Linked DNA regions of Homo sapiens. The protein of the gene in region 1 purifies or fractionates together with the protein of each later gene. This does not show direct contact. Each region holds a gene or a part of one and is shown on either strand. Other genes may lie near its edges.

The links. The genes of interacting proteins can lie anywhere in the genome.
Region 2: the proteins of TRAF3IP1 (region 1) and TRAP1 purify together in Homo sapiens (affinity purification with mass spectrometry; one study listed by BioGRID and IntAct). This does not show direct contact.
Region 3: the proteins of TRAF3IP1 (region 1) and MAP4 purify together in Homo sapiens (affinity purification with mass spectrometry; one study listed by BioGRID and IntAct). This does not show direct contact.
Region 4: the proteins of TRAF3IP1 (region 1) and IFT172 purify together in Homo sapiens (affinity purification with mass spectrometry; one large-scale study listed by BioGRID and IntAct). This does not show direct contact.

What each region holds. Positions count from the first base shown.
Region 1 is NC_000002.12:238,327,018-238,330,517, reverse strand, and holds part of TRAF3IP1 (TRAF3-interacting protein 1), read right to left. Parts: intron 1,833-3,500; coding exon 1,689-1,832; intron 1,593-1,688; coding exon 1,176-1,592; intron 1-1,175.
Region 2 is NC_000016.10:3,707,525-3,711,024, forward strand, and holds part of TRAP1 (heat shock protein 75 kDa, mitochondrial isoform 1 precursor), read right to left. Parts: intron 2,879-3,500; exon of another isoform or gene 2,861-2,878; intron 1-2,860.
Region 3 is NC_000003.12:48,006,417-48,009,916, forward strand, and holds part of MAP4 (microtubule-associated protein 4), read right to left. Parts: intron 1-3,500. UniProt on the Homo sapiens protein: Non-neuronal microtubule-associated protein. Promotes microtubule assembly.
Region 4 is NC_000002.12:27,444,744-27,448,243, forward strand, and holds part of IFT172 (intraflagellar transport protein 172 homolog), read right to left. Parts: intron 3,180-3,500; coding exon 3,069-3,179; intron 2,892-3,068; coding exon 2,772-2,891; intron 1,739-2,771; exon of another isoform or gene 1,613-1,738; coding exon 1,517-1,612; intron 1,246-1,516; coding exon 1,186-1,245; intron 1,101-1,185; coding exon 1,002-1,100; intron 707-1,001; coding exon 553-706; intron 363-552; coding exon 271-362; intron 1-270. UniProt on the Homo sapiens protein: Required for the maintenance and formation of cilia. Plays an indirect role in hedgehog (Hh) signaling, cilia being required for all activity of the hedgehog pathway.

The DNA of each region.
Region 1 (3,500 bases):
CTGGATCCCTTCCCGACCTCAGTGTCCTCCTTCCTAGCAGCTGGAGACAAGATGATTTCCAACATCTTCGCGGGATGCTTTACAATTTGACATCCCCCAAAGAATGCGTGTCTGGGTGTCTGGGAAAACGTCCCCAACACACATGGTGGGTCCAGAAAGAATTCACACATTGAGAAAACAGTTTGAAACCAACAGGACTTCCTGGCAAACCCTAAATTTACCTGAAAATTTAATTAAACAATAATTACAGTAAACTCAGGTCTTATTGTACTTATCTGCTGATGCCTAAAAGCCCTTGAAAGCAGCCCTAATCCTTAATAACTGAGCAATGTCCATGCTCCTAAAGACACCACATGCACAACTCAGACTGCGCATAAACACCGCTTGCAATGCTAAGGTGGAGGCTGCTCCAAAGCCTTCAGAGCAATACTGAGAGTGACACAAATGACACAAACGACACGCACGGGAGAAGCAACACATCTTAAAACACCTGCAAGACAAGGACAAGAGCAACTTGGCAAATCAGCTCAAACTCTGAAAAACGTTGATTTCTCTACATGCCTGGTGGGGAATCATTAAACCCTAAAAAGAGCAAGCATTTAATATTTTCCTGACATCCCCCTTCAAATTATCTTCTACCACTCCCAGATCAAAATTCCATAAAGGGAGACCTCAGAAACCACCATCAATTGATCAATTCCATCCAGTGTTTCATGATCTGAAAAGCCCATCACCCCTTGCCTGGATGCTCAATCCATTCCACCACCAAATATTTACTGCAAAGCTGCTATGTGTCAGACACTCTATCAGACTGGGCATCCAACAGTGAACATGAGTGAAATCTCTAGCTTTTGCTCTTAGGGAGCTTATAATCCAGCAGAATTCTCCCTGGACATGAAGTAGGAAATGGTTAAAAACTCACTGAATAATGCCTTAATAAATGATTGGCTGAACAATAAACTTCTATTAGGGGATGAACAAAAAAACCCAAAACACAACTGACAAGAAATAAGTATCTCTTTGGGTTTCTATTGAGAATCCAAGATTGTCATCATTTTAAATAGGCATAAAAGAAAACCAGTTTCCTAGTCATATTGTAAGAAAGGTAAAAATCATGTTTGAGACCACCACAAACTCTTGCTAAGCAAAAGGCGAGGTTCTCAGCAAGACTTTACCTTTTTCTCAGGTTTGTCATGCTCTCTGTTCTTCTCCCTGTCCAGGTCCCAGGAGTGCTCCCCGTTTTTCACTCTCCGTCTGTCCCTGTCCTTCCCTTTGTCCCGGTCGCGCTCTCGGTCCCTGTCTCTCAGTCTCTCCTTCTCTTTCCCCCCCTCACTCTTTCTCTCTGTCTCCTTCTTGCGCTCGGAGTCTCTGTCCCGCTCCCTGTTGCCTCTGTCTTTCTGTCGCTCGTTGTCTGGCCTGGCCCGGGCTTTGGCTCTCTCTCTCTCCCCTTCTCTGTGTCTGTTTCCGCCATTCTCCTTGGCCTTCTCCTTGTCCTTGTCCTTTTCTCTTGGCTTGCGGTCTTCTTTCAATTCTTCCTTCTGTTTTCGATCTCTGCTTGTACTTCTCTCTTTTATTTCAGCGTCTCCTCTATCCTACGAAATAAAAATAAAATCATTTATGAATATTTTTACCTAAACTACAAAAAGACTCACTATTTCATTTTCAAAGATGTGCGACTTGGAATTCACCTCTGTATTTTTGTGAACTCTGGACTCTTCTTCTCGCACATTCTTATTATCCAATTCCTGAGATCTTGAGGTCAGTGAGGCCCGGCCTTTCACTTCTCCCTTCTCTCCAGCTAAAACCCTCCGCACCGCATCGTCACTAGAGAGCTTGTCGTCCAAATGGAAGGAAATGAGGTGTTAGGTGAAATGAGATCCGCACACGTAACAAATAGAACATCGCCATTCAAAGATAGCTCATGAGACAGATTCTCTGTCTACAATGAAATTCAAAGGATAAAATATTTTTTGAACATGTTATTATCACATACAAAGCACAGCATATCTTGATAACTATTACTTTCAGCACTTTGGTCACTAACAGTAGCGTCCACCCAAGCTAAATGAATCCTGGTTCAAGTCTACCCAAGCTGTCAAATGTGAATGTGTGTGTTCAAGGTTAATAAAGCTGACCCATGCAACTCTACTACAAATACCTTAAACTTCTAATGGGATCATAGAATCCCAGCCATAAGTGCCTTAAGATTTTATCTAACCACCTCACACCCATTAGGATGGCTGCTCCTAAAAAAAAACACACAAAACCACAAGCATTGGCAAGGATAAGGAGAAATTGAAGCTCTCATGCACTGTTGGTGGAAATGTAAAATGATGCAGCCATTATGGAAAATAGTATAACAGCTCCTCAAAAAATTAGGCACAGATTTACCATATGACCCAATAATTCCCCTTCTGGGTATTTATCCAAAAAAATAGAAAACGGGGTCTTGAAGAGATATTTGTATACCCATGTTCATAGCAGTATTATTCATAATAGCTAAAATGTGGGAGCAAACTGTACCATTGACAGTTGAGTGGATAAACAAAATATGGTATATCCATTACAATGGAATATTATTCAGCCCTAAAAAGCGATGAAATTCTGATACATGCCACAACATGGATAAACCTTGAGAACATTATATTAAGTGAAATAAGCCAGTCAAAAAAATGACAAACACTCTATGACCCCACTTATCCGAGGTCCCTAGAGTAGTCAGATTCATAGAGACAGAAAGTAGAATGGAGGGTGCCAGGGGCTGGGGTACGGGAGAAGAGGAAGTTAGTGTTTCATGGGGACAGAGTCTGTTTTGCAAGGAGAAGAGTCCTGGAGATGGAAGGTGGTGATGGCTGCAGATGAATGAATTTACCAGCACTGAAGTGTACACTTCAACATGGTTAAGATGGCAAATTTTATGTTTTATGGACTTTAACACAATAATAAAATTATGGGTAAAAAACCACTGATCTGATTCAAGCCCCATCAAACGCAAAAATTCCTTCTCCAGCATCCCCGACAGCCATCCAGAGTGCAGGACACCTCAGTCAGGAGTCCCACTGACTCACGCACTCATTCCACAAGCACATGCTGCGTGATTGCCGCGTGCCAGGCTCCATTTAGGCCAAAGACACACCGTGTACTGGGGACACAGATAAACACAACAATTAAACAACAGCCTATAGGAAGCCTACAGGGGCACCTAAGTCAGCCTGGGAGGGAGGAGAGGCCCAGGCTCAAGGAAGCACTCACAGACGCCACATTGTTGCTGGGTGAGGCTGGAGGAGGAAGGCAGCTCAGGTACCAAGAAGCCAGCAGGCACCAGGGCAAGAGGCCGACGGGAGACAGCCGGCCAGGGCCGAATGCAGGGGTGCGTGGCGACTGGAATGGAGGGCTCAGATATGGGAAACGAGAGAAGGATCTGAAGGGAGAGAAGTAGCAGCAGGTCTCTAGGAGCCTCACAAGCTGTGCCATGGAGCTGGCCCAGACCCGAGGCTACT
Region 2 (3,500 bases), on another chromosome or scaffold:
GGCCATAAATATAAGGACCACATAAAAATTTAAGTCAAAAGACAAACACCCGGGTGAGGTGGCTCATGCCTGTAATCCCAGCACTTTGGGAGGCTGAGGTGGGTGGATCGCCTGAGGTCAGGAGTTCGAGACCAGCCTGGCCAACATGGTGAAACCCCGTCTCTACCAAAAATACAAAAATTAGCTGGGAGTCGCAGCGGGCATCTGTAATCCCAGCTACTCCAGAGGCTGAGGCAGGAGACTTGCTTGCACTCGGGAAGCGAAGGCTGCAGTGAGCCAAGATCGTGCCACTGCACTCCAGCCTGGGCAACAGACAGAGCGAGACTCTAACTCAAAAAAAAAAAAAAAAAAGACAAACACATTAAGAAAAAAACTGGGGGCCAGGCACGACGGCTCCTGCGTGTAATCCCAGTACTTTGGCAGGCAGAAGTAGGAGGATCACTTGAGACCAGGAGTTCAAGACAAGCCGGGGCAATATAGTGGGACCCCATCTCTAAAAAAAATGTTTTTTAATTAGCCAGGCATGGTGGCACATGCTCCTTGGGAGGAAGAGGTCACAGCCACTTGGGAGGATGAGGCAGGAGTATCACTTGAGTCCAGGAGGTCAGGCCTGCAGCGAGCCAGGATCGCACAACTGCACTCCAGCCCGGATGACAAAGCAAGACCCTGCCTCTAAAATAAAATTTAGTGCCGTGGCTCACGCCTGTAATCACAGCACTTTGGGAGGTGGGGGCGGGCAGATCCCGAGGTCAAGAGTTTGAGACTAGCCTGGCCAACATGGCAAAACCCTGTCTCTACTAAAAATACAAAAAAAAACAAAAATTAGCCAGAAAGCCAGGAGCAGTGGCTCACACCTGTAATGCCAACACTTTGGGAGGCTGAGGCGGATGGATCATGAGGTCAGGAGTTCAAGACCAGCCTGATCAACATGGTGAAATTCCATCTCTACTAAAAATACAAAAATTAGCCGGGCGTGGTGACGGGTGCCTGTAGTCCCAGCTACTAGGGAGGCTGAGGCAGGAGAAATGCTTCAACCTGGGAGACGGAGGTTGCAGTGAGCCAAGATTGTACCACTGCACTCCAGCCTGGGCGACGGAGCGAGACTCCATCTCAAAATAAATAAATAAATAAATAAAAATAAATGAGCCGGGCATGGTGGCGCGTGCCTGTAATCCCGGCTACTTGTGAGGCTGAGGCGAGAGGACTGCTTAACCTCGGGAGGCGGAGGTTACAGTAAGGTGAGATGGCGCCACTGCACTCCAGCCTGGGCAACAGAGTCAGACTCTGTCTCAATTTTTTTTTTTTTTTTGAGATGGAGTTTTGCTCTGTTGCCGAGGCTGGAGTGCAGTGGTGCGATCGCGGCTCACTGCAAGCTCCGCTTCCTGGGTTCACGGCATTCTCCTGCCTCAGCTTCCCAAGTAGCTGGGACTACAGGCGCCCGCCACCATGCCCAGATAATTTTTTGTATTTTTAGTAGAGATGGGGTTTCACCGTGTTAGCCAGGATGGTCTCGATCTCCTGACCTCATGATCCGCCCGCCTCGGCCTCCCACAGTGCTGGGATTACAGGCGTGAGCCACCGTGCCTGGCCCGACACTGTCTCAATTTTTAAAAGTTATTTAAAAGGGCTAGCGCAGAGGTTACGGTGAGCCAAGATCACGCCACTGCACTCCAGCCTGGGCACCAAGTGCAAAACTCCATCTCAAAAAAAAAAAAAAAAAAAAGAAAAAGGCCATTGGTTCAAGAGAAAAATGGCCATTCACAAAAACAAGAAACATCAATGGCTTTACGTCCTAGTAAAAGATGTTTTACCACACTCATAACTAAGGAAATGCACTTTAAAACGAGATAGCATTTTCACTACCAGATTGACAGATGTTTTAAATACTGTCATTCTAGCACTGGTGAAGGTGTGAGAAACTGTTGGCAATGCCGTCTGTTATCTTGGGGAAACTCAGCAACAACCTAAATGTCCGCCATGAGAGGGTTACATAAATTACAAAACATCCTCGCTATGGAATACCAGAGCTCTGTGGCGACAGGAAACAAACCCCAGAATATAAGTGGAAAATGCAAGGTACGGAAGATTACACACGGTTCCTTCCCAGTTTACCTTTGTTTCCCTTTTTTTTGTGTGTGTGTGTGAGACGGAGTTTTCGCTCTTGTTGCCAGGCTGGAGTGCAGTGGCGCCATCTCGGCACACCACAACCTCCACCTCCCAGATTCAAGCGATTCTCCTGCCTCAGCCTCCTAAGTAGCTGGGATTACAGGCATGCGCCACCACGCCCGGCTAGTTTTGTATTTTTCGTAGAGACAGGGTTTCTCCATGTTGGTCAGGCTGGTCTCAAACTCCTAACCTCAGGTGATCCACCCGCCTCAGCCTGCCAAAGTGCTGGGATTACAGGCGTGAGCCACCGCGCCTGGCGAGAAGATTCTTAAGTACATGAACATTCTGAACAGAAAGACCTGTATTCCCTCACAAATGTCTGAGTTCTTAGCTCTGGCATTCTCAACACTCACTGTTTCTTGAGGTTTCCTGTGTTCCAGAACCTGGTCTAATCGTTCTCTACTATGATATACTGATACTTCATTCATCAGGAAACATAACTCCTTGAACATAAAGAAAAAGAACAAAAAGCGAAAGGGCACCTCGGAATAGTCAAAATATGGGCCTGAAGCCCTCACCCTGAGCTTTGCTCATGGAAGACTACTGGCCCCATATGAAATCCATCTCATTCTAACAATTTGATGCTAACAAGTTTCCCAGCCACATCTGCAAACTAGGAAAGGAGAGAACAGGGCTCCAGACAGACCTGCAAGTTAAGGCCACAGTAAGAGAGGCCAAAAATATAAACACTCACAATGCAGTTTTGATGTGGGGACACTTCATAGACGAAGGATTCTTCACATTTCAATGGCCCTACGGGAGCCTACATATTAAAACAGAAGACCAAACATTAACACCCGTAATAATGACCCTGAAAACATCCAAGAGAGGTTCAGTCATGGGCCATCAAATGATGGAGTGTTCTAGAAAGACTTCTCATCATAATGGTTAAAATGAAATGTTTTAAAGTCAGCCTCGTGGAAAATTCGCTTGAACATTCCATTGCCTGACAAATGCTGAAATACTGGCAAGTGTGAACTAACATGGCAATGTGCTGTCTTAATTTCTCCTTCGAGGTGCATATCACTAACCCGACACACATAGTTACATTAGAAGGACCCACGTCCTTCTGTCTTCTTCTCAGCAGCATTGCTGAATAGCCTCCTGCTCTTAATATGGCATTTAATTTAGCTATCTCAAAATTAATTTCTTTTATATGTGTGTGTGTATATATATATATATATATATATTTTTTTTTTTGAGACACTGTCACTCTGTCACCCAGACTGTAGTGCAGTGGCGTGATCACAGCTCACTGCAGCCTCGACTTCTCAAGGCTTAAGGGAGCCTCCCACTTCAGCCTCTTGGGTAGCTGGGACCACAGGCACACCCAG
Region 3 (3,500 bases), on another chromosome or scaffold:
AAGTCAGGTAATTAATGAAGTTTTAGCTTAGGTCTGACTTACAGTGGGCCCAGTGGGTCCCTGGACTCATCCTGTGGTCATTACCCCAGTGCCAGAATGCATAATTGGCATAGACATACTTAGCAGCTGGCAAAACCCCCACACTGGCTCCCTGACTGCTAGGTTGAGGGCTATCATGGTGGGAAAGGCCAAATAGAAGCCCTTAGAGTTGCCTCTACCTAAAAAAATAGTAAATCAAAAACAATATCACATCCCTGGAAGGTATGCAGAGATCAGTGCCACCATCAAGGACTTGAAAGATGCAGAAGTGGTGATTCCCACCACATCCCCATTAACTCTCTCATTTGGCCTGTGCAGAAGACAGATGGATCCTGGAGAATGATAGTGGATTATCATAAGCTTAACCAAGTGGTGACTCCAATTGCTGCTGCTGTTACCAGATGTGGTTTCATTGCTTGAGCAAATTAACACATCTCCTGGTACCTGCTATGCAGCCACTGACTCTGCAAATGCCTTTTTCTCTATTCCTGTCCATAAGGCCCATCAGAAGCAATCTGCCTTCAGCTGGCAAGGCCAGCAATATACCTTTACTGTCCTACCTCAGGGGTATATCAACTCTCCGGCTTTGTGTCATAATCTTATTTGGAGAGATCTTGATCGCTTTTCGCTTCCGCAAGATATCACACTGGTCCATTACATTGATGACATTATGCTGACTGGATCCAGTGATCAAGAAATAGCAAACACACTGGACTTATTGGTGTGACATTTGCATGCCAGAGGATGAGAAATAAATCCGACTAAAATTCAGGGACCTTCTGTCTCAGTAAAATTTCTAGGGATCTAGTGTTGTGGGACCTGTTGAGATATTCCCTTTAAGTTAAAGGATAAGTTGTTGTGTTTGGTCTCTCCCACAACCAAGAAAGAGGCACAATGCCTAGTGGGCATATTTGGATTTTGGAAGCAACACGTTCCTCATTTGGGTGTATTACTCCGGCCCATTTACTGAGTGACCTGAAAGGCTGCCAGTTTTGAGTGGGGTCCAGAACAGGAGAAGGCTCTGCAACAGGTCCAGGCTGCTGTGCAAGCTGCTCTGCCACCTGGGCCATATGACCCAGCAGATCCAATGGTGCTTAATGTGTCAGTGGCAGATGGGGATGTTGTTTGGAGTCTTTGGCAGGCTCCCATAGGTGAATCGCAATGGAGACTTCTAGGATTTTGGAGCAAGGCCCTGCCATCTTCTACAGATAACTACTCTCCTTTTTTTTTTTTTTTGAGACGCAGTGTCACTCTGTTGCCAAACTGGAGTGCAGTGGTGCGATCTCGGCTCAATGCAACCTCCACCTCCCAGGTTCAAGCGATTCTCCTGCCTCAGCCTCCCAAGTAGCTGGGAATACAGGTGCGTGCCACCACATCCAGCTAATTTTTGTATTTTTAGTAAAGATGGGGTTTCACCATGTTGGCCAGGATGGTCTCGATCTCTTGACCTTGTGATCCGCCCACCTCAGCCTCCCAAAGTGCTGATTACAGCTAACTACTCTCCTTTTGAGAGTCAGCTCTTGGCCTGTTACTGGGCTTTAGTGGAAATTGAATGTTTGACTATGGGTCATCAAGTCACCATGCGACCTGAACTGCCCTGCCTATCATGAGCTGGGTGCTTTCAGACCCATCTAGCCATACAGTGGATTGTGCACAGCAGCATTCCATCATCAAATGGAAGTGGTATATACGTGATCGGGCTCAAGCACGTCCTGAAGGCACAAGTAAATTACATGAGGAAGTGGCTCAAATGCCCATGGCCTCCACTCCTGCCACCCTGCCTTCTCTCTCCCAGCCTGCACTGATGGCCTCATGGGGAGTTCCCTATGATCAGCTGACAGAGGAAAAGAAGATTAGGGCCTGCTTCACAGACGGTTCTGCATCATATGCAGACAACACCCGAAAGTGGAGAGCTGCAGCACTACAACCCCTTTCTAGGACATCCCTGAAGGACAACAATGAAGGGAAATCTTCCCAGTGGGCAGAACTTCGAGCAGTGCACCTGGTTGTGCACTTTGAATGGAAGGAGAAATGGCCAGATGTGTGATTATATACTCATTCATGGGCTGTAGCCAATGGTTTGGCTGGTCAGGGACTTGGAAGGAGCATGATTGGAAACTTGGTGACAAATTTGGGGAAGAGGTATGTGGATGGACCTCTCTGAGTGGTCAAAGACAAGATATTTGTATCCCATGTGAGTGCTCACCAACAAGTGACCTCAGCGGAGGAGGGGTTTAATAATCTAGTGGATAGGATGACCCATTTTGTGGACACCACTCAGCCTCTTTCCCCTGCCATCGCCCATGGCCAACAAAGTGGCCATGGTGGCAGGGATGGAAGTAATGCTTGGGCTCAGCAACATGGACTTCCACTCACCAAGGCTGACCTGGCTACGGCCACTGCTGAGTGCCTAATTTGCCAGCAGCAGAGACCGACACCAAGCCCTCAGTATGTCACCATTCCTTGGGTGATCAGCCAGCTACCTGGTGGCGGATTGATTATATTGGACCTCTTCCATCATGGAAAGGGCAGAGGATTGTCCTCACTCAAATAGACACTTACTCTGGATATGGGTTCGCCTATCCTGTATGCAATGCTTCTACCAAGACTACCATTTGTGGAATGTTTTTTTGGTTTGTTGTTGTTGTTGTTGTTGTTGTTTTGAGAAGGGGTCTCACTCTGTTGCCCAGGCTGGAGTGCAGTGGCACAATCTTGGCTCATTGCAACATCCGCCTCCCGGGTTCAAGTGATTCTCCTGCCTCCGCCTCCCAAGTAGCTAGGATTACAGGCACCCGCCACCACACCCAGCTAATTTTTGTATTTTCAGTAGAGACAGGGTTTCACCATGTTGGCCAGGCTGGTCTTGAACTCCTGACTTCAAGTGATCTGCCTGCCTCGGCCTCCCAAAGTGCTGGGATTACAGGCGTGAGCCACCGCACCCAGCTGACTCATGGAATGCCTTATCCACCATCATGGTATGCCACGCAGCATTGCCTCTGACCAAGGCACTCACTTTACAGCTAAAGAAGTGCGGCAGTAGGCTCATGCTCATGGAATTCACTGGTCTTACCATGCTCTCCATCATCCTAAAGCAGCTGGATTGACAGAACAGTGGAATGGCCTATTGAAGTCACAATTACAACGCCAACTAGGTGACAATACTTTGCAGAACTGTGGGAAAGTCCTCCAGAAGGCCGTGTATCCTCTGAATCAGCGTCCAATATAAGGTACTGTTTCTCCCATAGCCAGGATTCACAGGTCCAGGAATCGAGGGGTGGAACTGGAAGTGGCACCACTCACCATCACCCCTAGTGATCCACTAGCAAAATTTTTGCTTCCTCTCCTGCAACATTATGTTCTGCTGGCCTAGAGGTCTTAATTCCAGAGGGAAGAATGCTGCCACCAGGAGACACAACAATGATTCCATTAAACTGGAAGTTAAGATTGTCACCTGGACACTT
Region 4 (3,500 bases), about 210 Mb from region 1:
TTTAAGCGATTCTCCTGCCTCAGCCTCCTGAGTAGCTGGGATTACAGGTGCACGCCACCAGACCCGGCTAACTTTTGTATTTTTAGTAGAGACGAGGTTTTAACCATGTTGGCCAGGCTGGTCTCAAACTCCTGACCTCAGGTGATCCGCCCACCTTGGCCTCCCAAAGTGCTGGGATTAAAGGTATGAGCCACTGCACCCAGACTTGTTTTTTTTTCTTTTTTTAGTGCTGCCCTCTCTGCCTTCATTCTCCAAGTCCTCCTCTCTAACCTTGATGGCCATAAGGAATTTATTCCAGTTGTCCTTGTTAGCAGCCTTCCCTGGCCGCTTAAATTCAATTTTGTTCCTCAGAATGGGGTATCCTGTGGAGGAAGAAAAAATGATGAACTGGGGTTTGAGAGAGATTGAGGAGGGAAAAATGAGGAGCAGCCTGGGGGGTAGAAAGCACAGTCCTGTCTTTTGTACCCTTTACTGAATCCTAGTAAAATTAAGTTTATTGATCCTGCTGCTTTCTACCCACCACAGGATCTGGGGTGCTGTAGGCTTCTATACCTGTAATAAGGCAGGGCAGGGCTCGAACACCAGTGCTCGCTGCCACTAGGGAGGCCTCGTAGGCGCCACGCTCATCCCGAGGCAGAACCTGCTCCAGCCGCTGGTCCATGGAGACTGTAAGCACCCAGTCTCGAACCTCTTCTCTCTCAGCCTCCTGGAAAGGACAAGAAGGGAGTGGTAGCTTCACACAGGGCAGGGCAGGACAAGTTGGGGTGGATGGGTGAGGAGGGGGTTTGCTAAGCCCTCATCCTGTATACCAGCTTTTAGCCACGAATCCTCCTTGGATTGGGGGATGCAGTCACAGCCTTTTCTTTCTATTTTGCTTCTACTTTCACTGAAAAAACAGTGAGGGCTGAGGTCCTTCCAAAGATGGCAGCACAAAGATATTCTCCCTCCTCAAGGCACTCACACTGGTGAGGCCTTCCGGTTTTCCAACCCTGTGCCCTTACCGGTACATGCTGCTTAGCTGGGAGTGGCACCTCAAAGGGAATGTCTGTATCCTGAAAATCAGAGTGGTCAAGGCCATCTAGAGTCCCTTCCTCGATTGCCTGCAGTAGAGTGGGCAACCATGAACTAGGCACAGCTCGCGACTGGCAAAAACCTCCACCCTCGGGGCACAGCTTCCCTACTCACATCGGTCAGGTCCAAAAAGCGATTGAGGAAGATGAATGCCATGTTATCCCAGCCAACTGCCTGCAGCAAAGAAGAGTTGCAAATGGGAGTGAACAAGCTGGGTTTGAATGCTACTTCTCTGGGATCCAGATGCAAATGGGAGTGAGCAAGCTGGGCTTGAATGCTATTTCTCTGGGATCCAGGGAGAAAAATCCAGGAAGACATAGGAGGACTACATCCTCCGTAACATCAGCCCTACACTCAGCTTTCCTCTACCAGAGCAGAAGGGATATTCTATTTTCCAACCTTTAACTTCCTCCTATCTGCCCCACCCTTCCTTGTCCCAGCTCACCTTGGCAGCAATGCCTGCTTCATAGAAGGCTTTGTCTACAGGTAGTAGCTGGGTGTGACGCAAGAGTGAAACAGAAAGCCTGGCAGCCACGGTTTCCTGGGATTAAAGTCAAAGCATTATGAATATGGCACTAAAGTGACTGAGCTACCAGACCAATGATCCTGTAAGGCAGCCACAGAACTAAAAAACAACAATTATTATTAAACTGCTCTGGATTCTCAAGCTGTTCTGGGTCTTAGTTTTTTTTTTCTTTTTCTCTGAACAAGACACCTGGGCCTAGGTTCAATTCTTTCGCCCAGGCTGGAGTGCAGTGGTGCCATCTCAGCTCACTGCAACCTCTGCCTCCCGGATTCAAGTAATTCTCGTGCCTCAGCCTCCTGAGTAGCTAGGACTACAAGCGCACATTACCATGCCTGGCTAATTTTTTTTTTTTTTTTTTTTTTTTTTTTTTGAGACGGAGTCTCGCTCTGTCGCCCAGGCCAGACTGCGGACTGCAGTGGCGCAATCTCGGCTCACTGCAAGCTCCGCTTCCCGGGTTCACGCCATTCTCCTGCCTCAGCCTCCCGAGTAGCTGGGACTACAGGCGCCCGCCACCGTGCCTGGCTAATTTTTTGTATTTTTAGTAGAGACGGGGTTTCACCTTGTTAGCCAGGATGGTCTCGATCTCCTGACCTCATGATCCACCCGCCTCGGCCTCCCAAAGTGCTGGGATTACAGGCGTGAGCCACCGCGCCCGGCCAACCTGGCTAATTTTTATGTTTTTAGTAGAGATGGGGTTTCACCACGTTGGCCAGGCTGGTCTCGAACTCCTGGCCTCAAGTGATCCACCCGCCTCGGCCTCCCAAAGTGCTGGGATTACAGGGGTGAGCCACCACACCCACCCACCTAGATTGTTTCTAAGGTTCTTTCCACTTCTAGAATTCTATCATCCAAGTACATGAAATAAATATACAGTGAACAGTCAAAAATAAGCCCAGAATATGTGTACATTATAAGAGGTGAATAAAGAAATCATGGGATTTGGATGTTTAAACATAATGAGGCTGAGGCTGTGTGGGCACAGAGCCCTAAAAAGGTCGGAAGAAGAAAACCTCAGCAAGGGCTAAAGATTTGTTTAGACAGAAGAGAAGCTGAAAGACAGGTGGGGAGATTCAAGAGCCCAAGCTGAAGAATCCAGAACGTGAATCAATTCAGCTTTATACATTTGCAGATGAGCCCTTCTGACTGAGTGTTCCTTCGACCCCCTACATCTCACCAGCTGTTTGACACTCTGGGCTGCAGAGCGCGTGGCATAGTAATGAGCGATCAGCAGCATCGTCTTGAACTCCTCATGGGCTGGAGAGTTTGCCTCACTGGACTTCACCAGGTTTTCACACTAGAGGAGGGAGACAGCACAGCCTGGCTCAGGGGTCAGAGGAGTGCCAGGGCCATAGAGTGGTCTCTGATAGCCACCTGGCAGAGGAAGGTAAAATACATCTGAGAATAAAGGTTTATGTGCATCAAAGAAGAGATGAGGACAAGGACAGACGGAGCAGCCCTTTCGCTTCCTCACCAGGTTGAAGAGGACATCTCGAAGATCAGCCCAGCTATGATAGGCCTCGGCACAGTTGGTTCCAGGAGAGCTCACCATGTCAGTGAAGATCCTTTTGTAGATATTGAAGTTCTAGAGGTAGAGGGAAGAAGGGGATCTGAGAAGGGCATAGCTAGAAGAGAAAGTCACTGGAAGTGGGGCCAAAGGGAGGAGAAACAGGCTTTGTGTGTAGAAATGGGTATGTGTGTGTGTGCAAGGGCTGGGGGACAGTGGCAGATTTTTATTTTTATTTATTTTTATTTTTTTAATTTTATTTATTTATTTTTGAGACAGAGTCTTGCTCTGTTGCCCAAGGCTGGAGTGCAGTAGCATGATCTCGGCTCACTGCAAGCTCTGCCTCCCAGGTTCATGCCATTCTCCTGCCTCAGCCTCCCGAGTAGCTGGGACTATAGG